7 linked regions of the Homo sapiens genome follow. Changing the gene in region 6 together with the main gene of any one other region gives a genetic interaction. Each region holds a gene or a part of one and is shown on either strand. Other genes may lie near its edges. The genes, in order: PAFAH1B1, CNOT1, ACTL6A, SPAG7, COPE, UBA2 and GTF2E1.

Region 1 (3,500 bases), on a different chromosome or scaffold from region 6:
TATACATATATACATACTTTTTTTTTTCCTTGAGACAAAAGTTTTGCTCTTTTTGCCCAGGCTGGAGTACAGTGGTGCAATCTCAACTCACTGCAACTTCTGCCTCCTGGGTTCAAGCAATTCTCCTGCCTCAGCCTCCCAAGTAGCTGGGATTACAGGCATCTACCACCACGCTCAGCTAATTTTTTTATTTTTAGTAGAGACGGGGTTTCACCATGTTAGCCAGGCTGGTCTCGAACTCCTGACCTCAGGTGATCCACCTGCCTCGGCCTCCCCAAGTGCTGGGATTACAGGCGTGAGCCACCGCGCCTGGCCTGTATTTTGAAAAATACAAAAATTACCCAGGCATGGTGGCGCGGGCCTGTAGACCCAGCTACTCAGGAGGCTGAGGCAAGAAGACTGCTTGAGCCCAGGATTTGCAGAGTTGTAGTTAGCCACTGCACTCCAGCCTGGGCAACAGAGCCAGACCCTGTCTCAAAAAAAAAAATCATTCTTTTGTCAAAATGTATTCACTGCACTCTGTTCTGAGATACTACAAGTTGCTCTAGACAGAGAGGACAGCAGGAGTAGAATCACAAAGATCACAAAGTGGGGAGGGAGAAAGCATATATATATTAGAGTGTGAGCAAGGTGGGGCTTGATTAGAAATGAAACTTGAAGTGACTGAAGACCTAGCAAACTGTGTTAAAGTATGTGGACTATAGGAAAGAGGGAGTCAGCACAGTACGGTGGCTGAAAGCCCCAACTGTGGAGCCTCAGTACCTGAGGTTCAACTTTCAGCTCTGCTACTTACAAAGCTGTCACAAAGGGCTAGCTAAATTCTCCCAGAATGTTGTGAGGAGTAAACGAATACTTGTAAAGCACTTAAAACAGAGCCTGGCGTATTAGTAAGTGCTATGTAAATATTTGTTAAATAAATACAAAGGGAGCCAAGGGAGGGTTCTTTTTAAGTAGGGAAGTGTGATATGGTCAGATTGCATTTTAGATAGATGACTGGGGACTATGTAGCAGAAAGACGTTAACCGGACAAGACTGAATTTAGAGAGACGATGTGAAATTAGTTGGGTAAGAGATTATGTGAACTATGATGGTAGTAGTAGTAATGGTAAGTATGGATAGAAGGGGACTAACTCAACAAATATCGAGGAGGTAAAATTGGCAAGACAAGGTAATTGATTGGATATAGAGGAAGAAAGAAGAGTCAAGGTTGAGTCCCACGTAAAGTATTATTTCTAATGTTTTTAAAAGTAATATTCTTCTAAGAACTTTGGATCCTAGATGTCTTCTGTGCTAGTGACATTTGATGTCTTGGGGTTGTATTATGATGCTTCCATAAAAATGCGAACCACAGGCCTGTTTAAACTCTCAAATTGATAGGCCCTCGCTGTTTTGTTTTTTTTTTCAGTAGGTGGAGATAATTTCTCTTTAAGGACATACCATTATACAGAACACTTATTTAGCCCAAGTCGAAGAGCCAGAAAGCTTGAATAATGATTTTATTAAGTGGGGTTTTTTTTTATCTTTACGTTGGGATTTGTGATGATAAAGACTATAGCATCATGGTAATACTGTAAAAATTTTTAAGTGACTGCTGAACCATTAAAGACAAATTAAAATTTGTTAATTCTGTTATTTCCAATTTTTTCACTGTTCATTCATATATGATAAACTTTGATAACCAGAATATTTCATTACTTATTGATCCCTTTGACAAATCTTAGCTCATTTCTACATTTGTCAACTTTAAAAATATTTTTTCTTAGGCTGAGAGCAGTGGCTCATGCCTGTAATCCCAGCACATTGGGAGGTAAAGGTGAGCAGATGGCTTGAGGCAGTTTGCTTAGGCTAGGAGTTTGAGACTGGCCTGGGCAACATGGCAAGACCTCACCTCTTACAGAAAATAGAAAAATTAGGCCGGGCGCCGTGGTGCATGCCTGTAATCCCAGCACTTTGCGGGGCCGAGGCAGGAGGATCACCTGAGGTCAGGAGTTCAAGGCCTGCCTGACCAACATGGTGATACTCCATCTCTCCTAAAAATAGAAATATGAGCCAGGTATGCCGGCAGGCACCTGTAATCTCAGCTACTCGGGAGGCTGAGGCAGGAGAATTGCTTGAATCCAGGAGGCAGAGGTTGAAGTAAGCCAAGATCATGCCATTGCACTCCAGCCTGGGCAACAAGATTGGGAGACTCCATCTCAAAAAACAAAAATTAGCCAGGTGTGGCTGGGCACGGTGGCTCATGCCTGTACTCCTAGCACTTTGGGAGGCCAAGGTGGGCAGATCACGAGGTCAGGAGTTCGAGACCAGCCTGGCCAACAGAGACCCCCCATCTCTATTAAAAATACAAAAAACTTCACTGGGCAGGGTAACAGATGCCTGTAATCCCAGCTATTCAGAAGGCTGAGGCAGGAAAATCACTTGAACCCAAAAGGCGGAGGCTGCAGTGAGCCAAGATCGCAACACTGCACTCCAGCCTGGGCGACAAGAACGAGACTCAGTCTTGAAAAATAAATAAATAAATAATAAATAAATATTCATGTATGAGTTTAGTCAACAGCTTATTTCATTTTCTCTGACAATGCTAAATGTATAGCCTTTCCTCACCCATAAAAAGTTAACCAAGGCCAGGCATGATAGCTCATGCCTATAATCCTAGCACTTTCAGACACTGAAGTGGGTAGATCACCTGAGGTCAGGAGTTCGAGATCAGCCTGGCCAATATGGCGAAACCCCATCTCTACTAAAAATAAAAAATTAGCCAGGTGTGGTGGCACATGCCTGTAATTCCAGCTATTACTAGGGAGGCTAAAGCAGGAGAATCGCTTGAACCCAGGAGGCGGAGGTTGCAGTGAGCCGAGATCGCGCCACTGTACTACAGTCTGGGCAACACAGCGAGAGTCCGTCTCAAAAAGAAAAACTTAACCAAAATACTAAATAATCAAAACATCTGACTCATTTATCTCCATCTTCTTTCTTTTGTAGTTAGCATATTTTTTATAAAATAAAAATATGAAAAGAAATAGATAAAACACTAGTATATCATAGAACATATTCTTTCTTTTTTTGGTTTTTTTTTTTTTTTTTTGAGATAGTTTCACTCTTGTTGCCCAGGCTGGAGCGCAATGGCACGATCTCGGCTCACTGCAACCTCCGCCTCCCGGGTTCAAGCAATTCTCCTGTCTCAGCCTCCCAAGTAGCTGGGATTACAGGCACCCACCACCACACCTGGCTAATTTTTGTATTTTTAGTAGAGACAGGGTTTCACCACATTGGCCAGGCTGGTCTGGAACTCCTGATCACCTTCTGCCCGCCTTGGCCTCCCAAAGTCCTGGGATTACAGGCATGAACCACAGTGCCCAACCCATAAAACAAACTCTTCTATCTTTACCTTAGATTAAAAATGGATTGGGCTGGGTGTGGTGGCTCACACCTGTAATCCCAGCACTTTGGGAGGCCAACTCGGGTGGATCACTTGAGGCCAGGAGTTCTTTAGTAAAAAT
Region 2 (3,500 bases), on a different chromosome or scaffold from region 6:
AATGGAAATATTTGATAAATCATCTGTGATAATGTTAATTAAAGCCTAAAACTTTTTAAGAAATGTTACTAAAGTATACTTCATTCTTTTGAGGGGGGTGGGGGGCTTAAGTTACAATAGGAAAATGTTACTCCATTTTCCTTAGTGTGGAAATATTTTTCTTGTTTTTTAAAAATAGGGCACTTTAAGAGTGCTGCTGGTTCTTTTGCATGATTTCCCAGAGTTCCTTTGTGATTACCATTATGGGTTCTGTGATGTGATCCCACCTAATTGTATCCAGTTAAGAAATTTGATCCTGAGTGCCTTTCCAAGAAACATGAGGCTCCCCGACCCATTCACTCCTAATCTAAAGGTAAGGTTCCAACTAGTTAAAGGAAAACTTATGTCTTAATATTTCAGTCCTTTCTCTGATAAGTAGACTGTTCAGCACTTTCCTACCCAACATAACACGCACACTATTAGTTAAGGGTACTCTTTAAAGGAAATAATGTTATTAAGCCTGATAGAAGGTATGATATTGTTGCTATTGCTGTTGCTGGTGAATATTGGTTCACAGCATTTTTCTAGTTGCTAGTTTTCATATTAATTTTGATATTAAATTTAGCTCTATTTACAGAACCACAGCTTAGGTGTTGGGGCAGTCATTTGCTGGGTGTGCCCCACATGGCAAAGAATTGCAGAACAAACAGACCTTTGTAATCTTTTTCTTTTTTTGAGGCAGAGTCTTACTCTGTGACCCAGGCTGGAGTGCAGTGGTGCAGTCTCGGCTTACTGCAACCTCCCCTTCGCTGGTTCAAGCTATTCTCCCGCCTCAGCCTCCCAAGTAGCTGGGATTACAGGCACTCGCCACCACACCTGGCTAATTATGTGTTTAGTGGAGATGGGGTTTCGCCATGTCAGCCAGGTTGGTTTTGAGCTCCTCACCTCAAGTAATCTGCCTGCTTCGGCCTCCCAAAGTGCTGGGATTACAGGTGTGAGCCACCACGCCCTGCCATAGTCTCCATATTTCACAGTTTTGTGTCTGTGCACTTGTGCAGTTGTTCCTTGGTCCCTTGCTATTCTTGGAGGATTGGTTCTAGGACCCACTGGGACACCAAATTTTAAGTATGCTTAAGTCCTGTATGTAAAGTGGCATATAACCTTTGCATATCCCCTTAAATGACATCTGTAGTGCTTATGATACCTAATGTAGTGTAATGCTATTATGGAAATAACTATTTTAAACTATATTAATAACTTTTTAAAATTTGTGTTTTTTATTGTTGTATTATTATTTATTTGTATTTATTTATTTATTTTTGAGACAGAGTCTCACTCTGTCACCCAGGCTGGAGTGCAGTGGCGCAATCTCAGCTCACTGCAACTTCCGCCTCCTGGGGTCCAGTGATTCTCCTGCCTCAGCCTCCCAAGTAGCTGGTACTACAGGTGCCCGCCACCATGCCTGGCTAATTTTTTTTTTTGTATTTTTAGTAGTGACGGGGTTTCACTAGTTGGCCAGGCTGGTCTCAAACTCCTGACCTCACGATCTGCCTGCCTTGGCCTCCCAAAATGCTGGGATTACAGGCATGAGCCACTGCACCCGGCCTTTATTGTTGTATTATTTTTTATTGACCCCATCATCTACCTCTACCTTCACCCCCCATATTTTCGATTTGAGGTTAATTAGATATGGAACCTAAGGGTATGGAGAACCCACTGTATTTTTTTGTAAGTTGTTGGAATAAAGGAGAGAGAGGACCACTTAAAATCTCACCACCCTGACATGGCTACTATAGTTTGTTTAAGAGACAGGGGTCTCGTTGTTTTGCCCAGGCTGAAGGGCAGTGACTATTCACAGGTGTGAACATAGTGCACTTCAGCCTCAGGCTCCTGTGCTCAAGCCGTCCTCCTGCCTCAGCCTCCAGAGTAGCTGTGACTAGAGGTGCACACCACTAGAAGTGCCCAGCTATAGTTTAGATGTAGTCTCTACTCTTTCTGACACATGCATTTTTTTTTTTTTTTTTTTTTTTGAGACGGAGTTTCGTTCTTGTTGCCCAGGCTGGAGCGCAATGGCGCGAGCTGTGGCTCACTGCAACCTCTGCCTCCTGGGTTCAGGCGATTCTCCTGCCTCAGACTCCCGAGCAGCTGGGATTACAGGCACCACACCCAGCTAATTTTATATTTTTAGTAGAGATGGGGTTTCTCCATGTTGGTCAGGGTGGTCTTGAACTCCCAACCTCAGGTGATCCGCCTACCTCGGCCTCCCAAAGTGCTGGGTTTACAGGCGTGAGCCACTGCGCCCGGCTTCAATTTTTTTTTTTTTTTTTTTTTTTTTTAAGGAGTAAGTGTGATGTCTGGTCTTGCTGGGGCTTCTTTTCAAAGACTCTTGGTGAGTGAGGAATCTTATTCCGGATTATTATTTTGAAACCGAAGTCCAAGAAAAATCAGTTAGTTGTGCAAATTAGACCTTTGCCCAAAAGGTATCTTGCCTCTGGGAAGGAAATACATTATAGAGTGGGAAATTTTTATCATTTTGAACCAAGATTCTTCTAAAGAAAGAAAGACTGATTAATAAAATGTGGCAGCTGTGCTCTTCAAGGCATTTATAGTGTATATAGTTTTAGAAAAACAGTCCCACCACTTAAGCATAGATGTAATTTACTAATAAAAATGATTCTGCTTGTGATTCTTGCATTTTATCTGTGGCAGGTGGACATGTTGAGTGAAATTAACATTGCTCCCCGGATTCTCACCAATTTCACTGGAGTAATGCCACCTCAGTTCAAAAAGGATTTGGATTCCTATCTTAAAACTCGATCACCAGTCACTTTCCTGTCTGATCTGCGCAGCAACCTACAGGTTAATTGGTTTGGCTTAAAACTCATCTACGTCTTCCATATAAAGCACTTTCTATGTATGGTCCTGTGTGTGGTCCATTTGGGAGTTAGTCTTTTATTGTCATTTCCATCAATTGGGTGAGGTTGATTAACTGGATTTACGTATTTTACTAGTTCATTTAATCAGTGATATTTTGCTACAGCTTTGGACAAGACAGCACTAGAAGAGTAGACCACAGACAGTCATTAGCTGTTGGTACTCCTAGGATTTTTCTGAATACCTGGATGCTGATTTACATTTCTCTATAGGATATTTTGGAAAGTTATATATTTACAGTCTGTATATGCCATGCAACTACAACTTTCTCTCCAAATCTTTAATTGGCACAGTGCATATTTTGATTTTATAAACTTTACTTTAGAGCTGTGCCTTGAGCTTCGGCTTCCTGAGGGAAATCACATTTCTCTTATTGATACAACCACCTTTGGAGCATCTGTGTGTTTGTTAAATAACCTCACAAATTCAAGCAAGTGAATCACAATAAATGTTTGGCCTTTCCATGAAGGTGTAAGAAGGGTTTAGAAATACTGGTGCTAGAATTGGTCCTCTGCAGGAGTAAGCATAAGGAGTTCTGTTTTGCTCATTTTAAGGTATCCAATGAACCTGGGAATCGCTACAACCTC
Region 3 (3,500 bases), on a different chromosome or scaffold from region 6:
TTTTTTAAGTATGTTAAAAATCTTTAGTATATAATGTATATTTAAAACTGATGCATGGCTTTATTTATGTGTTGAAGGATAGTTCAGTTCATTCTACCTGAAAAAGTTATTCACATAAATACACCCACAGAGGAAATTCGTTCAAGGAAGTTTGGACTTACTGCCCTCTTAGCCTTGTTTCATCTGTTTCATAGGCATTGTGAAATCCCCTCTTGCTGGAGACTTTATTACTATGCAGTGCAGAGAACTCTTCCAAGAAATGAATATTGAATTGGTTCCTCCATATATGATTGCATCAAAAGTAAGTAATTATTGAATTTTCTTTGTAGAACTTACTTCTAGCTCCCCCACCCCTATGAAGTGAACTCCATTAACCTAGCATCTCTTGGTACTCTCAGGAAGCTGTTCGTGAAGGATCTCCAGCAAACTGGAAAAGAAAAGAGAAGTTGCCTCAGGTTACGAGGTCTTGGCACAATTATATGTGTAATGTAAGTAACCCTCATTCTCTTTACAAAAATGTTACAGGCTTTTTGCATGAGTATTAAAAAAAGTTATATATAGGCTGTAAATCCTTGAGTAAAATATGGGCACTTTATATTTTCAAGCTCTTTATTTTTTTTATTACTAAATACATTTTGAAGATTAAATAGAACATGATCTCAGGGTCACACTCTATATTTTTAATGATATTTTACTAACAAAAGAGCTTTTCTGTGAGAGGCATGCTTTTCATACTTGCCAAACAAATCTCTACAAATTACTACATACTCACTTGGATTACTATGGTGAGACCTGGAAGGAATTTTGGTTTTATGCTATTCTGAACATTTTTGGCTGAGAAAATGGTTTTAGGTTTTGTAGAGGCCTACTAGTATGTCTCAGTTATGTTCTGTTTCCCAGCATCAGTCAGCAATATCAAAAATGTGTTTTTGTTCAGAACAAGGAACCCATGAGAGATTCTCTTTACTAAAAACCCATCTCTGAACATATGGCTTACTGATGGGGAAGAGGTTAGTAAAACAACCTGATGCCACAGATACGCCTTAATTTCTTAAAAAAAAAACAAAAAAAAACTGTTACTTTAGGTTCAGGGGTACATGTGCAGGTTTGTTAAATGGGTAAACTCATGTCACGGAAGTTTGTTGTACAGATTATTGTCCCCCAGGTACTAAGCCTAGTACCCAATAGTTATTTTTTCTGCTCCATTCCCTCGTCCCTCAGGGAGGTCCAACTGTCTGTTGTTCCCTTCTTTGTGTCCATGTGTTCTCATCATCTAGCTCTCACTTGTAAGTGAGAACGTGCTGTATTTGGTTTTCTGTTCCTGCATTAGTTTGCTGAGGATAATGGCCTCCAGCTCCATCCCTGTTCCTTCAAAGGACATGATCTCATTCTTTTTTTTTTTTTTTCACTACATAATATTCTGTGGTCTGTATGTACCACATTTTCTTAATCCAGTCTTCCACCGACGGGCATTTAAGTTGATTCCATGTCTTTGCTATTGTGAATAGTGGTGCAGTGTACATACACATACATGTGTCTTTATGATAAACTGATTTATATTCCTTTGGGTATATACCCAGTAATGAGATTGCCAGGTCAAGTGGTAGTTCTGGGCCAGGCATGGTGGCTCACGCCTGTAATTTGAGAGGCTGAGGTGGGTGGATCCCTTGAGCTCAGGAGTTAGAGACCAGCCTGGGAAACATGGCAAAACCCTGTCTCTACAAAAACAGAAAAATTAGCTAAGTGGGGCCGGGTGCAGTGGCTCACGCCTGTAATCCCAGCACTTGGGGAGGCCGAGGCGGGTGGATCACCTGAGGTCAGGAGTTGGAGACCAGCCTGGCCAACATGGTGAAGCCCTGTCTCTAAAAATATAAAAAAATTAGCTGGGTGTGGTGGTGGGTGCCTGTAATCCCAGCTACTTGGGAGGCTGAGGCAGGAGAATTGCTTGAACCCAGGAGATGGATGTTGCAGTGAGCCAACACGGTGCCACTGCGCTCCTGCCTGGGCGACAGAGTGAGACTCCATTTCAAAGAAAAAGAAAAATTAGCTAAGTGTGGGGGTGTGCACCTTTAGTCCCAGCTACTTGGGAGACTGAGGTGGGAGAATCACCTGAGCCCTGTGAGGTCGAGGCTGCAGTGAGCTGTGATTGTACCAGTGCCTTCTAGCCTGGGTAACGAGTGAGAACCCATCTCAAAAAAGAAAAAAAAACAAATGGTAGTTCTGTTTTTAGCTCTTTGAGGAATTGCCACATGGCTTTCAACAATGGTTGAACTAATTTACATTCTCACCAAAAGTGAATAAACGTTCGCTTTTCTCTGCAGCCGTGTCAGCAGCATCTGTTATTTATTTAATTTTTTCAAGACAGAGTCTTGCTTTGTCACCCAGGCTGGAGCGCAGTGGTGCAGTCTCGGCTCACTGCAACCTCCATCTCCTGGGTTCAAGCAATTCTCCTACCTCAGCCTCCTGAGTAGCTGGGACTACAGGTGTGTGCCACCACACCTGGCTAATTTTTGTATTCTTAGTTGGCCAGGCTGGTCTCTAACCCTTGACCTTGTGATCCACCCGCCTCAGCCTCCCAAAGTGCTGGGATTACAGGCGTGAGCCACTGTGCCCGGCCCTATTTTTTCACTTTTTAATAATAAATAATAGCCATTCTGACTGGTGTGAGATGGTGTATCATTGGGGTTTTGATTTTCATTTATCTGATGGTCAGTGATATTGAGCTTTTTTTCATATGCTGTTGGCCGCATGTATGTTTTCTTTTGAAGTGTCTATTAGTGTCCTTTGCCCACTTTTTAATGAGGCTTTTTGTTGTTGTTGTTCCTTATAGAAGCTAGGTATTAGACCTTTGTTAGATACATAGTTTGCAAATATTTTCTCCTATTCTGTAGGTTGTTTGCTTACTCTGTTGATAGAAATTAATGTGTATCCAGCAAAAGAAACTAAGAGTAAAATTATATGAGTCATAATTTACTATGAGAGGGATCATATCTAACAGGTTTTTTAAAAATTATTTTATTTATATCATATACACACACACACACACACACACACACACACACACATTTTAAAGACAGGGTTGGCTGGGCACGGTGGCTCATGCCTGTAATGCCAGCACTTTGGGAGGCCAAGGCAGTGGATCACTTGAGGCAAGGAGTTCAAGACTATCCTGGCCAACATGGTGAGACCCCATCTCTACTAAAAATACAAAAATTAGCTGGGTTTGGTGCTGAGCACCTGTAATCCCAGCTACTTGGGAGGCTGAGGCAGGAGAATTGCTTGAACATGGGAGATGGAGGTTGCATTGAGCCAAGATTGTGCCACTGCATTCCAGCCTGGACGACAAGAGCAAGACTCTGTCTCAAAAAATAAATAAAGACAGGGTCTCTCTCTGTCACCCAGGCTGGAGTGCAGTGGTGCAGTTGTAGTTCACTGCAGTCTCAAACACCTGGGCTCCCCCTGCCTCAGCCTCCTCAGTAGGGAGGACTACAGGTGCATGC
Region 4 (3,046 bases), on a different chromosome or scaffold from region 6:
TGAGCCACTATGCCCAGCCCGATTGCACTCTTAAAATACAGCATCTTACAAAACCCTCTGGGCCGGGCACAGTGGCTCACTCTTGCAATCCCAGCACTTTGGGAGGCTGAGGCGGGCGGATCACCTGAGGTTAGGAGTTAGAGACCAGCCTGGCCAATATGGTGAAACCCCATCTCTACTAAATGTACAAAAAATTACCCGGGTGTGGTGACACATGCCTGTAGTCCCAGCTACTCAGGAGGCTAAGGCAGGAGAATCGCTTGAACCCTGGAGGCAGAGGTTGCAGTGAGCCGAGATCACACCACTGCACTCCAGTCTGGGCAACAGAGAAAGACTCTGTCTCAAAACAAACAAACAAACAAAAAACCTCTGATAGTTCCAACTGGCCATCTTTAACCTACACAAACAGCAATTTTATGCTGTTCAACTGAAAATTATTCCCCTTCTTCTCTACCAGTGGTTCCAGGACCCACCTTTCTGTGTATAAACAAACCAGGACATTGGGTTAAACAGTATTTATTGAATGTAAAGTACCCCAGCCCCATGGGGAAGAAAATTCCAAGAACGGGGAATAATACAGATTAAATACCCACCTGTGCATTCACACTCTCACACACACACACACATGCCACGCACATATCCAAGCTCCAACGGTGACAAATCAAACACCTGTTTTCCCCCAGCCTGAGGGACAGCTGGTAGGAGGTGGTTCAGAGGTGGGGCTCCAGGATGGGCTCTAATAGCAGCAGCCTTGTCTCTCCCTGCCCCCTGCCCTGCCCCAGGGGTCAAAGGGAGCTGGGCGGGGCGCCTAGGAGGTTGGCGGCAACTCTTCCCCACTCTGCCGCAGACGCTTCTTGGCTCTGATCTCATTCATAGCCTCTTCAATGGAGCGTGTGTCCCTCTTATTGGCCACGGGCACTAGGGGCAGAGAGGAGGGTAGGGCGGGCCTAGAAATCCGTACCTCAGCCTCCACTGCCCTCCTGCCGCATCCTATGCTCCTCTCCCAGCCACCCCCAGCCGCACTGTGGCCTCACCACAGCCGTAGGTCTTATTGGCCTGTAGCATGTGGGCTGCGTCTTTGGCTGCTCCCTTGCCGATGAGGTGGCTGTACTTGTCCTTGTAGTCGCTGGCAGGGCTCACCACCACAGGCCCCTGCTGGGCTGCCTCCTCCTCTTGCCTCTGGGCCAGCTCCTAGGGGTGAAAGTGGGGGCACTGGTGCTCAGGGCCCCAGCCCAAACCCCCACCCCTCCCAGGTGGTGGGCTTCTGGACCCCAAGGGCTGCAAAGCATAGCTCACCTTCAGCTTCCGCTTCTCCTCAGCCTTCTGGGGGTCCCATTCCTCTCCACGACGGTAAGAGTCTAGCTCTTCATCTGAGGGTGCAAACTCCTGAAGAAGAGCAGAATGATGGGGTCAGAGTCCATACAAATGTTTCATTTCATTCCTTGGTCGGGGAGGGGGGATAAGGCTACAAAGGGGAGAGGAGAGAATGAGGAATTCAGGCCCTTTACCTTTTTGAAGATCATGACATAGCGACAGTCATCATCTTCCCCAAAGGAGAAGGATGTCAGGCCAGCCACTTCCACCACATCATGTCTGGGATGGGATGGCAGAGGGGAAAGAGCATCTTGAGCCAGGAGCGGGCCTAGTGCCCTCCTCTGGAGGAGCCCCCCGCTGGCCCTTTCATGCCCCGCTAGCCACCCATTTCCTTCCTCCCCCAGCCCAGGGACACTCACAGTATGCTCCTCTCGATCTTGTTCATTGGCTGAAACTTTTTCTTGATCTGCCCACTGTCTTGAATGAAATCTGACACCTCCTTCTCCATCTTGGGAGAGGGGAAAGGAAGCAGATATGAGACAATGGCTCCACCCAAGTACCCCTCTCCCTAGCTGAGCCTGGGCCCTTCTACGCCTCCCCAGCACCCTCCCCAGCCTCCAAGCCACTGGCTTCCATGCGTCACCTCTCTCAAGACATTTTCAGCAAAACTGAGTCCTCAACCTTCCAATTTTAACTTATTGGAAGTCCTTCCTGAGTCTGCCTTTGATCACTCCAGTTGTTCTCACCCTTTTACGAAACTCCACTTTCTGTTGTTTCTCTTGCTCTTGTAGTTTCTTCAGGCGGGCGGCCTGTTCTGGGGGTGAGAAATGGCAACATGAAGCCAGGGCTGGAAGCATGGGTGGGAAAGGTTTCTAAGGCTTCAAGTGAAGTGTGGTGTCCACTGGGAGGTGTCAGGCTGGGAAGGTAGGATTAGCGTTTATTCATCAAGCATTTATTGATGTTTATTCTATCTAATAGTCCCCCTTATCCACAGGGGTTCATTCCAAGACCCTCAGTGGATGCCTGAAATTGTGGATAGTACTGACCCCTATACATACTATGTCTTTTTCTATACATACATGCCTATGATAAAGTTTAATTTATAAATTAGGCACAGTAAGAGATTAAGAATAATAGACCAGGCATGGTGGCTCACGCCTATATCCCAGCACTTTGGGAGGCCGAGGCAGACAGATCTCCTGGGGTCAGGAGTTCGAGACCAGCCTGGTCAACATGGTGAAACCCCATCTCTACTAAAAATACAAAAATTAGCCGGGTGTGGTGGTGGGCGCCTATAATTCCAGCTACTGGGGAGGCTGAGGCAGGAGAATCGCTTGAACCTGGGAGGCAGAGATTGCAGTGAGCTGAGATCGCGCCATTGCACTCCAGCCTGGGCAACAAGAGTGAACTCCGTCTCAAAAAAAAAAAAGAGATGGCCGGGTGCAGTGGCTCACACCTGTAATCCCAGCACTTTGGGAGGCCAAGGTGGATGGATCATGAGGTCAGAAGATCGAGACCATCCTGACTAACACGGTGAAACCCTGTCTCTACTAAAAAAAAAAAAATATACAAAAAATTAGCTGGGTGTGGTGGTGGGCGCCTGTAGTCCCCACTACTCGGGAGGCTGAGGCAGGAGAATGGCGTGAACCTGGGAGGCGGAGCTTGCAGTGAGCAGAGATGGCGCCACTGCACTCCAGCCTGGGCGACACAGCAAGACTCCATCTCAAAAAAA
Region 5 (3,500 bases), about 16 Mb from region 6:
GGCTGCTTCTCCAGATGGGCGGTGAGTGGGCCGGGGCCTGAAACCCCATCCTGGGTACCTCCCCCAGAGCTCCTGGGCCTGAGGAAGCTGAGCGGTGAAATGTGGGAGTGAGGGTGTCCTCCTCTGCTGGGCGGGGCTGGTGGTCCTAAGCACAGGACTTAGGAACATCCCAGACACACACAGTGAGCCCTGGGTGTGGAGCGGCCATGCAATGTGTCTGTGGCGACCCGCTGACCGCCCCCTCGCCCTGTCCTGCAGCACAGCCATGACAGTGCAGATCCTGCTGAAGCTGGACCGCCTGGACCTCGCCCGGTGAGCCCTCCTGCCCCTCTCCACCCGCACTGAGCCACAGCCCAGAGCGTCACAGCCCAGAGCGTCACAGCCCAGAGCGTCTGTGGTGCTGTCATTACTCTTGTTGTCTTTCCTTTCCATGGGGGTGGCTTGCTGTCGTTCAGCCCTTCCCTGCAGTATGTTGCCAGGGAGGAGGGCCATGGCTCTCTGTGCCTCAGTTTCTCTCTATGCAGTGGGTGGCAGGCCTCTCCCACAGGGTGAGGGTGGGCTTCATGGAGGGAGAGTGGAGGTTGTGCCTGGAGCAACATGTTACTTGACCAGCTTGTAACTGTGCCGTGGGGCTGGCGGGGCCTGCACGTGGCATCACCAGGTCGGAGGCCATGGCTGGGGGTCCAGGACTCCCCTGCTGCCGTTTCCAAAGCCCTTGCCTCAGAGTTGTTCACACTGTAGTTCCGTTGCCCTTCCCTGCGTTCCATCCTCCATGGAGTGAGTCTCTCCTGAGCTCTACCTTGTGGTGGCCACCCTGGGGGGCCATAGCTGGCCCCAGTCCCACCTTCCCAGGGCCTGCACGTGGTCAGACGGGCAGGGTGGCTCGGGCACTTAGTCGTGGGGTATGAGCATGCAGTGGAGCACAAAGCAGGGGCCATCCCCAGGCTCCGGTGGGCCCCAAGTGGGGACAAGGCAGGGATGGCCAGGCCAGGGCCCTCGGCCACTCAGCCCCTCTGTCATCTGTCCCCGCCCCAGGAAGGAGCTGAAGAGAATGCAGGACCTGGACGAGGATGCCACCCTCACCCAGCTCGCCACTGCCTGGGTCAGCCTGGCCACGGTGAGCCCTAGGCCATGAGGTGGGTGGGCATTGCGGGCACCTGGCTGAGCAGGGTCTGTGGGCACCCCCACCTGTGCGTAGGCTGCTGGCCACTCCAGTGGGGCTCCAGGATCAGGCCGTGGCCCCTGCCAGCCTGGCATAACTCAGCCTTGACTCCATTCCGGGCTTCTCACAGCCAAGCGACTTGGCCAGAGCCAGAGCGAAGAGATGGTGGGGGCGGGGACGGGTTCCTGAGCCTGAGGCACAGGGGTACTCGAGGGTCTGGGTTGGCCTGGCAGGCCCTCCTCCCCTCAGGGCTTCCTGGGGTTTTCTGCGACTCAGCTTTGCTCTCCAGGGTCCTGGTCGCCAGCCAGGGACGGAGTTCAGTGTTCCCATAGCAGCGGTGGAGATGTCCTCAGCTCCCAGGCCTGGGCACCTCCGCCCGGCAACAGCCCCTCTCCTGGTTTCTGGGACTTGGCCCCCTTCTGAGCCACTCTTTTGTGTGGGCCTATTAAAATGTGCTTCCTGGCTGGTCGCAGTGGCTCACGCCTGTAATCCCAGCACTTCGGGAGGCCGAGGCGGGTGGATCATGTGAGGTTGGGAGTTCTAGACCAGCCTGACCAACATGGAGAAACCCCATCTTTACCAAAAATACAAAATTAGCTGGGCTTGGTGCCATGCACCTGTAAACCCAGCTACTCAGGAGGCTGAGGCAGGAGAATCGCTTGAACCCGGGAGGTGGAGGTTGCGGTGAGCCAAGATCGCGCCAGTGCACTCCTGCCTGAGCAACAAGAGTGAAACTCTGAGAAAGAAAAAAAAATGTGCTCCCCGTCCCTGCCCGCCACGGGGCTGAAGCCTCACCCAGACAGACTTCCAGTGACCGTCTAGTATGGTAGGACAGGCCCCGGCAGACCTATCGGGTAGTTTGGGCTGTTTTCACTGCCTGCCTTGGCCTCAGGCTCCCCCTGCAAGTGTTCTGCTGTTCTGAGCAAGTGGACAGGTCAGGGCTGCTGGTCACAGAGCTGACTCCTCCTCCTCTGACGTGCTCAGTGACCCAGTGGTCCCCACTCAGACCCTGAGCCAGCCACCTGTGCACTGAGGCCTTGGAAGCCCCAGATTCCACCTCTGTGTACTCAGCACTCCGGGAGCTGGGTGGGAGGTGGGGCAGGAGGCGGCCACGAGTCTTTAGGCCCCATCAGCAGAGTACAAGTTACGGGTAGTCCCCATGGCGGAGTGGCTGTGCCTTGAACCGGGCACACCAGATTCGTCTCTGTGCAGTGCTGGAGTCCCCCCCGCTAGGGGAGGGGGCTGGCGGGGGAAGGGCCGGGCAGCAGGGGCACAGGCAATGATGCGGGACCCTCCCTGCAGGGTGGTGAGAAGCTGCAGGATGCCTACTACATCTTCCAGGAGATGGCTGACAAGTGCTCGCCCACCCTGCTGCTGCTCAATGGGCAGGCGGCCTGCCACATGGCCCAGGGCCGCTGGGAGGCCGCTGAGGGCCTGCTGCAGGAGGCGCTAGACAAGGTAGGCACAAGCCTGTCCCAGAGTGGGGACGGAGGGAAGGCCAGGCGGCCAGAGGGTGGGGTCAGGGCGGACAGAAACAAGTGTAGCAGAGACCCCCTGGGTGTGCGTGTGGCCCCACAGGGCTTCTAAGGCCCAGTCAGCAGCGAGATCCACAAAGCAGGGATCTCACCTGCAAAGAAATCCAGATTCCGGCCTCACAGAAATGGGGCATCTGGGCAGCCTGGGCCTCAGTGGTCTGAGCCGTCCTTGTTGTCACCTCAGCTGCCTGGCCCGGGACCTGCAAGTGGGACCCCTCACCTGAGTACATACTCAGTATTGGAGAGACACTCCCCGTACTTATGTAGGGGAGAGTGTGCTGTGGACAGGAGCTCTTCGTTGAGAGAGCGCTGCCTGCCCAGGGTGGCTGCAGTCATCTCCTGCCTGATGTCTGCAGTCTTTTCTTCCTTCCTTCCTTCCTTCCTTCCTTCCTTCCTTCCTTCCTTCCTTCCTTCCTTCTTTCCCTTCCTTCCTTCCTTCCTTTCCTTCCTTTCCTTCCTTTCCTTCCTTTCCTTTCCTTCCTTTCCTTCCTTTCCTTCCTTTCCTTTCTTCTTTTTTTTTTTTTTTGAGATGGAGTCTCACTCTGTCACCCAGGCTGCAGTGCAGTGGTGTGATCTCAGCTCAATGCAACCTCCGCCTCCTGGGTTCAAGTGATTCTTTTGCCTCAGCCTCCCAAGTAGCTGGGATTACAGGCGGCTGCCACCACGCCTGGCTAATTTTTGTATTTTTAGTAGAGACGGGGTTTTGCCATGTTGGTCAGGCTGGTCTCAAACTCCTGACCTCAGGTGATCCACCCGCCTCAGCCTCCCAAAGTGCTGGGATTATAGGCGTGAGCCACCACGCC
Region 6 (3,500 bases):
AATTATGTTGACTAGAAAAATAACGTGAATATATTAAAGTGAAATGTTTCTTGTGTAGAGTAGATGTATTCATAGAAGTCATAAAATCATTTGGAGAAAACATCTCATTGGCCTGATTTGCCCTTGAAAATAGTAAGATTGTCTTTGAATTGAAATAGTTATTACTATTTCAGAGGTCTGAAAGACAGAGCTCTTGATACAAAAATGAGATGTAATTATTCTTAGAAGTTAAAATCATATTTAATAGTACTCTGCAGTTATGTCATCTTTTGAGATTTGATATTATGAACTAATTTTACTTAATTTTAATTGTAATCAGTATTTTCTATGGCTAAAAGTGTTTTATCTCATGAAGCTTGTATGTTCCTGTGGTGTTGAAGATTAGTCATGGGTCTTAAGGCATAAAGGCCAATTTTAGAAACCTAAGAAAAATTTGTGTGTACATATTTTGAAACTTTGGTTGAATCAGACATCTAAATACACTAAAATGAAGCTAGTATATTTAGATTCTTGGGATTCTTATAAACATTAGTCTCTTGGGTTTTGTGATATTTAAAGGGTAACTTTTCATATTTTCATTGTTATTGTTATGCTAGTGATTTGGGAAGTTTGATTAGTGCACAGAGGCTAAATAAAGAGCCCTTGGAATGGGAATTGTTATCCTCTTGAGTAAAGTCCACATGTAATGGGTGTGATAAGACAGCTGCTTAGGGAAGACACTGTGTTGAGTATTCAGTATTCTTAGTCCTCACCACACCTTATGAGATGGGGATATAATTTCCCCTATTTAATAGATTAAGAGATTTTGACTCAAGGAATTTGACTTGCCTGAGGATTCACAGCCAGCCAATAAATACATAAAGAACTATGCTCTCAGTATTTTTTCTTCTGTTCTGTGATGCCTCTGAATTTTAGACCAGGGTGATATCTTCTCAGTTCAAAGCAGGAAGCCTTGCTGAAATCTAGAGACTAGGATATAGTCTCAGGAAAAATACAAATCGTAACAGGAAAAACTTGGATTGTATTGCCTTATTTGAAGAAACAGCATATGTGAGAGAGTGGTGCATATGAAGAGAGTTTGGCAAAGGGGAGTGAAAAAGAGTCATCCAGGTTTTTCTGAAGTGTTAATGAAACAGCTTTTTTTTTTTTTTTTTTTTAATTGAGACAGGGTCTCACTCTGTCACCAAGGCTGGAGTGCAGTGGCATGATCTTGGCTTACTGCAGCCTCTGCGTCCCGGGTTCAAGTGATCCCGCCACCTCAGGCTCCCGAGTACCTGGGACGACTTTAGGTGTGCGCCACCATGCCTGGCTAATTTTTTGTGTTTTTGGTGGAGATGGGGTTTTGCCACGTTGCCCGGGCTGGTCACAAACTCCTGAGCTCAGGCAATCTGCTTGCCTCAACCTACTAAATTGCTTGAGACTACAGGCATGAGCCACCATGCCCAGCCTAAAACAGTTTTCTTAAATTGCTCGTCTTTTGGCCTGGATTCTGTGTTTGTCCAGCAACCTTCTCTTTACTGATGAATGGAACCAGGAAAGGGTTGCCATTGTCAGTGAGTGGAATTGAGATTCCGGTGTATACAACTGAGTCTCCGGTGCCTTTGTTTAGGCTGGAGTGAGTTCCTAGAAGCTGGTGATTCTTGGTGTTCTTGTCAGACTCATTACTGGACCAGAGGAGCTGATGATGAGACCCCACCCCCTACTTAACCCACCTCCATGCTACTGTGAGGTCCTAGCTGACTGGTCTTTCCCTCAGCAACCTCTTGTTCTAGTCGAAAGTCTATAGTATTATAAACACGTGAAAGTATTGTTCTGAAAGTAATGCTTCAAAATAGTCAATTTGTGGAGAAACTTGTTAAATTGTTTAAATTATTGGCAGGATGACCCATCTGCAATGGATTTTGTCACCTCTGCTGCAAACCTCAGGATGCATATTTTCAGTATGAATATGAAGAGTAGATTTGATATCAAATGTAAGTTATTTGTACTAAAGTTGTATCACTAAAACCTTGAAGTTGTTTTTTAAACAGTGAAACATACTCATCCTTTTTTTTTTTTCCCAGCAATGGCAGGGAACATTATTCCTGCTATTGCTACTACTAATGCAGTAATTGCTGGGTTGATAGTATTGGAAGGATTGAAGATTTTATCAGGAAAAATAGACCAGTGCAGAACAGTGAGTATTTCTGTTTGCATTTTTATGCAACCCCCCTTAAAAAAATCATTAATTAAAAGTACATTAAACAGATAATTTTTAAAATGAAAACAATAAAATTGGTTTAAAGCAATGGAAAAGTAATTTTTCTGGTTACCAAGTGAGTGTGTGTTTAAGCTTCCTGGAAATTGCAACAAAAAGGAAAAATTAAGAAGTTGCTTTTGCTTTTAACATTTCCAATTTTACTGAATTCTTCGAAGAATTCATTGTGCGGTCCTTATACTAAGAAGATGTTTCAACTGTTTTTCAATTCTGAGAGTGCTATATGGGTTTTAAAATTTGCTTGGTCATTTTATAGTCCCCTGTTCAGTCATTCTCCTATTGAGTCATTCTTTTCAATTTTATTGTATAGTTTTTGATAATGTTAATGTCTGAGATCTTTATGGGTGAGTCTGCTGTCATTTCTGCTATTTCTCGTAGTGATTTGCTTGTATGGTTTATGATTTTTTAAAAACTGAATGTGTATTAGAATTGTGTCTGGTAATTCTTTAGGGACCCATTGTAGATGTATTTCTTCAAAGAGCATTTGTGGTTATTATATTTGGGTGCTTGGGGCACTGCCAATACAGGACCACTTTTAAATTAGGATTTTCAATACCTATGTATTCAGACCACAAACCTGCACGTGCCCTATGTTATTGTCATGAATTATATGGGAAGATACTCCTCCCCCTCCACTAAGCACCAAGTTTAAGATCATTTTTATGGAGAAAGTATTTTTCTCCTCTCTTTTCAGGTCCTTGCTTTGTGTAAGGGTCTCCTGTTTTAAGAGTTCCTACCTTAGTGGTGGGTGGGGTAGGTGTATCTCTTAAGGCTAACACTACTTGGATGTTCTCTTTGGATTCCTTCCTTCGATGTTGTGTCTGCAGACACTTCGCTTTCTTACCAGCTCAAGAAGGCTTCCTAGGAAATACTAGCCAATACTTTGACTGTTGTTTAGGTTCTCCTTTTTATCATTGAAATAAAAAGACCTGTTTACCTTCAGAAATTTCAAAAAATATCTAGTTTGCAATGGTACTGTTATTTTGCAGTGTCATTGATGCACACTTACTTTTTTTTATCTTTTGAGACGGAGTCTAGCTCTGTTGCCCAGGCTGGAGTGCAGTGGCACAATCTTGGCTCACTGCAACCTCCACCTCCCAGGATCAAGCGATTCTCCTGTCTCAGCCTCCTCAGTAGCTAGGATTACAGGTGCATGCCACCATGCCGGCTAATTTTTGTATTTTTAGTAGAGACGGGTTTCACTATGTTGGTTAGGCTGGTCTCGAACTCCTGACCTCATGAT
Region 7 (3,500 bases), on a different chromosome or scaffold from region 6:
TTTCCTTCTCCTGCCTGATTGCCCTGGCCAGAACTTCCAACACTATGTTGAATAGGAGTGGTAAGAGAGGGCATCCCTGTCTTGTGCCAGTTTTCAAAGGGAATGCTTCCAGGTTTTGCCCATTCAGTATGATATTGGCTGTGGGTTTGTCATAGATAGCTCTTATTATTTTGAGATACGTCCCATCAATACCTAACTTATTGAGAGTTTTTAGCATGAAGAGTTGTTGAATTTTGTCAAAGGCCTTTTCTGCATCTATTGAGATAATCATGTGGTTTTTGTCTTTGGTTCTGTTTATATGCTGGATTACATTTATTGATTTGCGTATATTGAACCAGCCTTGCATCCCAGGGATGAAGCCCACTTGATCATGGTGGATAATAAGCTTTTTGATGTGCTGCTGGATTCGGTTTGCCAGTATTTTATTGAGGATTTTTGCATCAATGTTCATCAAGGATATTGGTCTAAAATTCTCCTTTTTGGTTGTGTCTCTGCCCGAAGCCCAGGTTTTTAAAGTAAACTATATGCCAATGTGGGCTTTGAGAAGACAGCTTTCTGGGTCATGGTACGGAAATGAGATACACTTAGTTTCTGCTTTGTCAAGGGATCCAGTATTTAAGAATATTTTGGGCTGCTCTCCCTCCCTCATTTTCTACCTTTTTAAGGACTGGATGGTCTTTCCTTGATTATCAGATTCAATTTTTCAAGGTTGGTAAAACTGTCTGGATCTAAGTATTACTTTCTTTCAGTTTTACAACAGTTAATGATTTTGTCAAACACCCCAGGTGGTGATTACTCATGTGTTTATTGGTTTGTTGTGATTTTATTGTGAAAGCATGACTATGTAAAACATCCTAGAATCTTGGTAGAAAAATTTTACTCAAGAAAGGAAACAAAGACACTTTTAGGAAATGCGAACTGCTAGTTTTCTCAGGGTTTCCAGCATTCCCAAAGAATAGTGAGCATTTCATGTAGCTTTTTTTGTGTTTCTCTTCTGAAGTAAAGTAGACTTGACGTAATATATTGTTTTATAAATAAAAAGTTACTTTTTAATCAAACACACTATAGATCATAAAAGTAGCCATTTAAGAAATATGTAAAGCTTTTTGGGTGTAATCTTTTGTGCATTCTAGAGGAAAATCTTGTTCTGCTCTGTTAAATGCTTAGGTATTAGAAATCTTTTTAAACACTTTGGGTACTTTTCTGGCACTGCAAGGATAGTGGATATGATTACCATGTTCTTATACCTGGCTAATTTTCTGTTTTTTTTTGAATTCAGTATATTTAAAGTTGGAGTTCGTTGCTAAAGATGGCAGACCCAGATGTCCTCACTGAAGTTCCAGCAGCATTGAAGCGGTTAGCCAAGTATGTGATCCGGGGATTTTATGGCATTGAGCATGCCTTGGCCTTGGACATCTTGATCAGGAACTCCTGTGTGAAAGAGGAGGATATGCTGGAGCTGCTCAAGTTTGATCGGAAGCAACTTCGATCAGTTTTGAATAATTTAAAGGGAGACAAGTTTATCAAATGCAGAATGAGGGTAGAGACTGCTGCAGACGGGAAAACCACTCGCCATAACTACTACTTCATCAATTATCGTACTCTTGTTAATGTGGTAAAATATAAACTGGACCACATGAGAAGAAGAATTGAGACCGATGAGAGAGATTCGACCAACCGGGCTTCCTTCAAATGTCCTGTCTGTAGTAGTACTTTCACAGACTTAGAAGCTAATCAGCTCTTTGATCCTATGACAGGTGAGGTTTATCCAGTTTGTGAATCTTTAAAATAAAGTGTGTATTACCTTTTTTCTTAAATTGATTCATCTAATTTTTAAACCATCATATATATTATTATAAAAGTGAATGGATCAGTGTAAATCACAGCATACAGTCAGTCTTACTGTCCTGTTTGGCTGTCGCACTACTTTGAGAAGCCTTTGCAAAGCGTTTCTCCTTTACAAGGGAGTTTCTCACTTATGGCCCTCCTGCCTCTGCCCACCCCACCTTGTTTACAACTGCAGCCTAATCTGAAGGGTTGATTTCTCTACCACTTTGAGGCTGTTCTAATTTTATTTTTGACCTCTAGACAGTTGCAATACAGTGTATTTAAATGCTTTGTTAGTGGAAGTAGAAAGTGGTATCAGGAGTATATAACTAGGGCATATAATCTGGATTTGGGGAAGGCCTCTGGAAGAAGTTAACATTTGAGACCTAAAAGATAGTAAGAGTTAGCTAGATGAAATAAGAGGGGAATTCTTTCCAAGATAAGACATTTAGTGTCCTTTAGATACACATTATTGTTGGAAGAAAATTGTCAACAAGATATATAATTGGCCTGATTTGATTGAATAGTTTTAAGGATTTTTCATAACACAATTTAGAAAGCATGCATTATCTGAAAATACAATATGTCTAGCATAAACATGAGAAACTTTAAAGTTCTGAGTTATATAGTTATTTTATCTTGTTATCTGTTTACACAATAAAAAAGAGACTAGTTTTGCTAAATACTCGATCAATTTTGTCTTATTTTCTACAGGTAAAAATCTATAGAAGGACTCAGTGCTATTAAATTAGATTAAGTCCCTTTGTTATGGTTGAATTCAGGAGTATAGGCTACTTTTTAGTTCATAGATCTGCTTTTTTAAAAACTTCGTCTGAAAGTTTAAACTTTGACCCATGAAATATTTGGTTGTGCAAAATTACAGATTTCTGTGTATGTTTTATTTTCTAATTTTTATGTTATATATGGTACATTTTAAATAATTAAAAAAAATTTTTAAGTGGGAAATAACCCCAATATAAATTAAGATTATTGACAAAAAGAGCCAGAAGCAATCTGTGACCTTTTTTTCTTATTTACTGTGAGGCAATGATTTTGGATGAAAACTGATTTAAGGAATTCACAATTGTATTAAACATTTAATTTGTCTGAGCCGAGCTTTTTACCTTGAAAGGGCTCCACAAGGAGAGATCTTGATTATAAGAAAGTCTTAACCATCCTCGGTATGAGAATTGCTTGAGTGTTCTATAGAGGAAGGTTGTAGAATATATCTGGAGCTCTTCAAAATAGACTAGAAAAGTCTCATGATTCTTGCCATTCACTCTAACAGATTTCTTACAGGAGCTCTGGGTTCTTGGTTTTGTAATTCTCTACAGATGTTGGTTTTAACAGTGGAGGCTTCATCACTCTTGACCACAGTAGAAGGTGTTATCCAGTCCCTTAGAGTAATCTAAAATAACATGCTTCTACTACATTTATTTGTCATTTGAGTCATATTAATTTAATTAAACTTTCTAAAAGGAGATGATTCCACTACTTATATATCAGTATTTGGGAGACTGATCATGATACTCTTGAATTTCACCTGGATTCTGAATGAAACTAGTTGACTCAATAGATGGCCTGTGGAAGAGATGGCCTAACATTCCATCCAGTACAGTCAAGGTGACTTGAATCAAGGAGTTAGGGTAGAGGGCATGAAAGTATTTTATGAA

Evidence for each region.
Region 1: changes in UBA2 (region 6) and PAFAH1B1 together harm fitness less than expected from each alone (positive genetic interaction), as found in Homo sapiens cells (one large-scale study listed by BioGRID).
Region 2: changes in UBA2 (region 6) and CNOT1 together harm fitness less than expected from each alone (positive genetic interaction), as found in Homo sapiens cells (one large-scale study listed by BioGRID).
Region 3: changes in UBA2 (region 6) and ACTL6A together harm fitness less than expected from each alone (positive genetic interaction), as found in Homo sapiens cells (one large-scale study listed by BioGRID).
Region 4: changes in UBA2 (region 6) and SPAG7 together harm fitness less than expected from each alone (positive genetic interaction), as found in Homo sapiens cells (one large-scale study listed by BioGRID).
Region 5: changes in UBA2 (region 6) and COPE together harm fitness more than expected from each alone (negative genetic interaction), as found in Homo sapiens cells (one large-scale study listed by BioGRID).
Region 7: changes in UBA2 (region 6) and GTF2E1 together harm fitness less than expected from each alone (positive genetic interaction), as found in Homo sapiens cells (one large-scale study listed by BioGRID).

What each region holds. Positions count from the first base shown.
Region 1 is NC_000017.11:2,600,154-2,603,653, reverse strand, and holds part of PAFAH1B1 (platelet-activating factor acetylhydrolase IB subunit beta), read right to left. Parts: intron 1-3,500. UniProt on the Homo sapiens protein: Regulatory subunit (beta subunit) of the cytosolic type I platelet-activating factor (PAF) acetylhydrolase (PAF-AH (I)), an enzyme that catalyzes the hydrolyze of the acetyl group at the sn-2 position of PAF and its analogs and participates in PAF inactivation.
Region 2 is NC_000016.10:58,525,327-58,528,826, reverse strand, and holds part of CNOT1 (CCR4-NOT transcription complex subunit 1), read left to right. Parts: intron 1-178; coding exon 179-352; intron 353-721; exon of another isoform or gene 722-904; intron 905-2,688; coding exon 2,689-2,838; intron 2,839-3,467; coding exon 3,468-3,500.
Region 3 is NC_000003.12:179,576,426-179,579,925, forward strand, and holds part of ACTL6A (actin-like protein 6A), read left to right. Parts: intron 1-194; coding exon 195-301; intron 302-336; exon of another isoform or gene 337-398; coding exon 399-488; intron 489-3,500.
Region 4 is NC_000017.11:4,958,726-4,961,771, forward strand, and holds the end of SPAG7 (sperm-associated antigen 7), read right to left. Parts: intron 2,129-3,046; coding exon 2,061-2,128; intron 1,823-2,060; coding exon 1,734-1,822; intron 1,594-1,733; coding exon 1,509-1,593; intron 1,387-1,508; coding exon 1,297-1,386; intron 1,192-1,296; coding exon 1,035-1,191; intron 919-1,034; coding exon 809-918; 3' UTR 501-808; downstream 1-500.
Region 5 is NC_000019.10:18,902,388-18,905,887, reverse strand, and holds part of COPE (coatomer subunit epsilon), read left to right. Parts: coding exon of another isoform or gene 1-21; intron 22-258; coding exon 259-312; intron 313-1,035; coding exon 1,036-1,117; intron 1,118-2,464; coding exon 2,465-2,620; intron 2,621-3,500. UniProt on the Homo sapiens protein: The coatomer is a cytosolic protein complex that binds to dilysine motifs and reversibly associates with Golgi non-clathrin-coated vesicles, which further mediate biosynthetic protein transport from the ER, via the Golgi up to the trans Golgi network.
Region 6 is NC_000019.10:34,452,381-34,455,880, forward strand, and holds part of UBA2 (SUMO-activating enzyme subunit 2), read left to right. Parts: intron 1-1,879; coding exon 1,880-1,973; intron 1,974-2,063; coding exon 2,064-2,176; intron 2,177-3,500. UniProt on the Homo sapiens protein: The heterodimer acts as an E1 ligase for SUMO1, SUMO2, SUMO3, and probably SUMO4. It mediates ATP-dependent activation of SUMO proteins followed by formation of a thioester bond between a SUMO protein and a conserved active site cysteine residue on UBA2/SAE2.
Region 7 is NC_000003.12:120,749,244-120,752,743, forward strand, and holds part of GTF2E1 (general transcription factor IIE subunit 1), read left to right. Parts: intron 1-1,279; 5' UTR 1,280-1,309; coding exon 1,310-1,757; intron 1,758-3,500.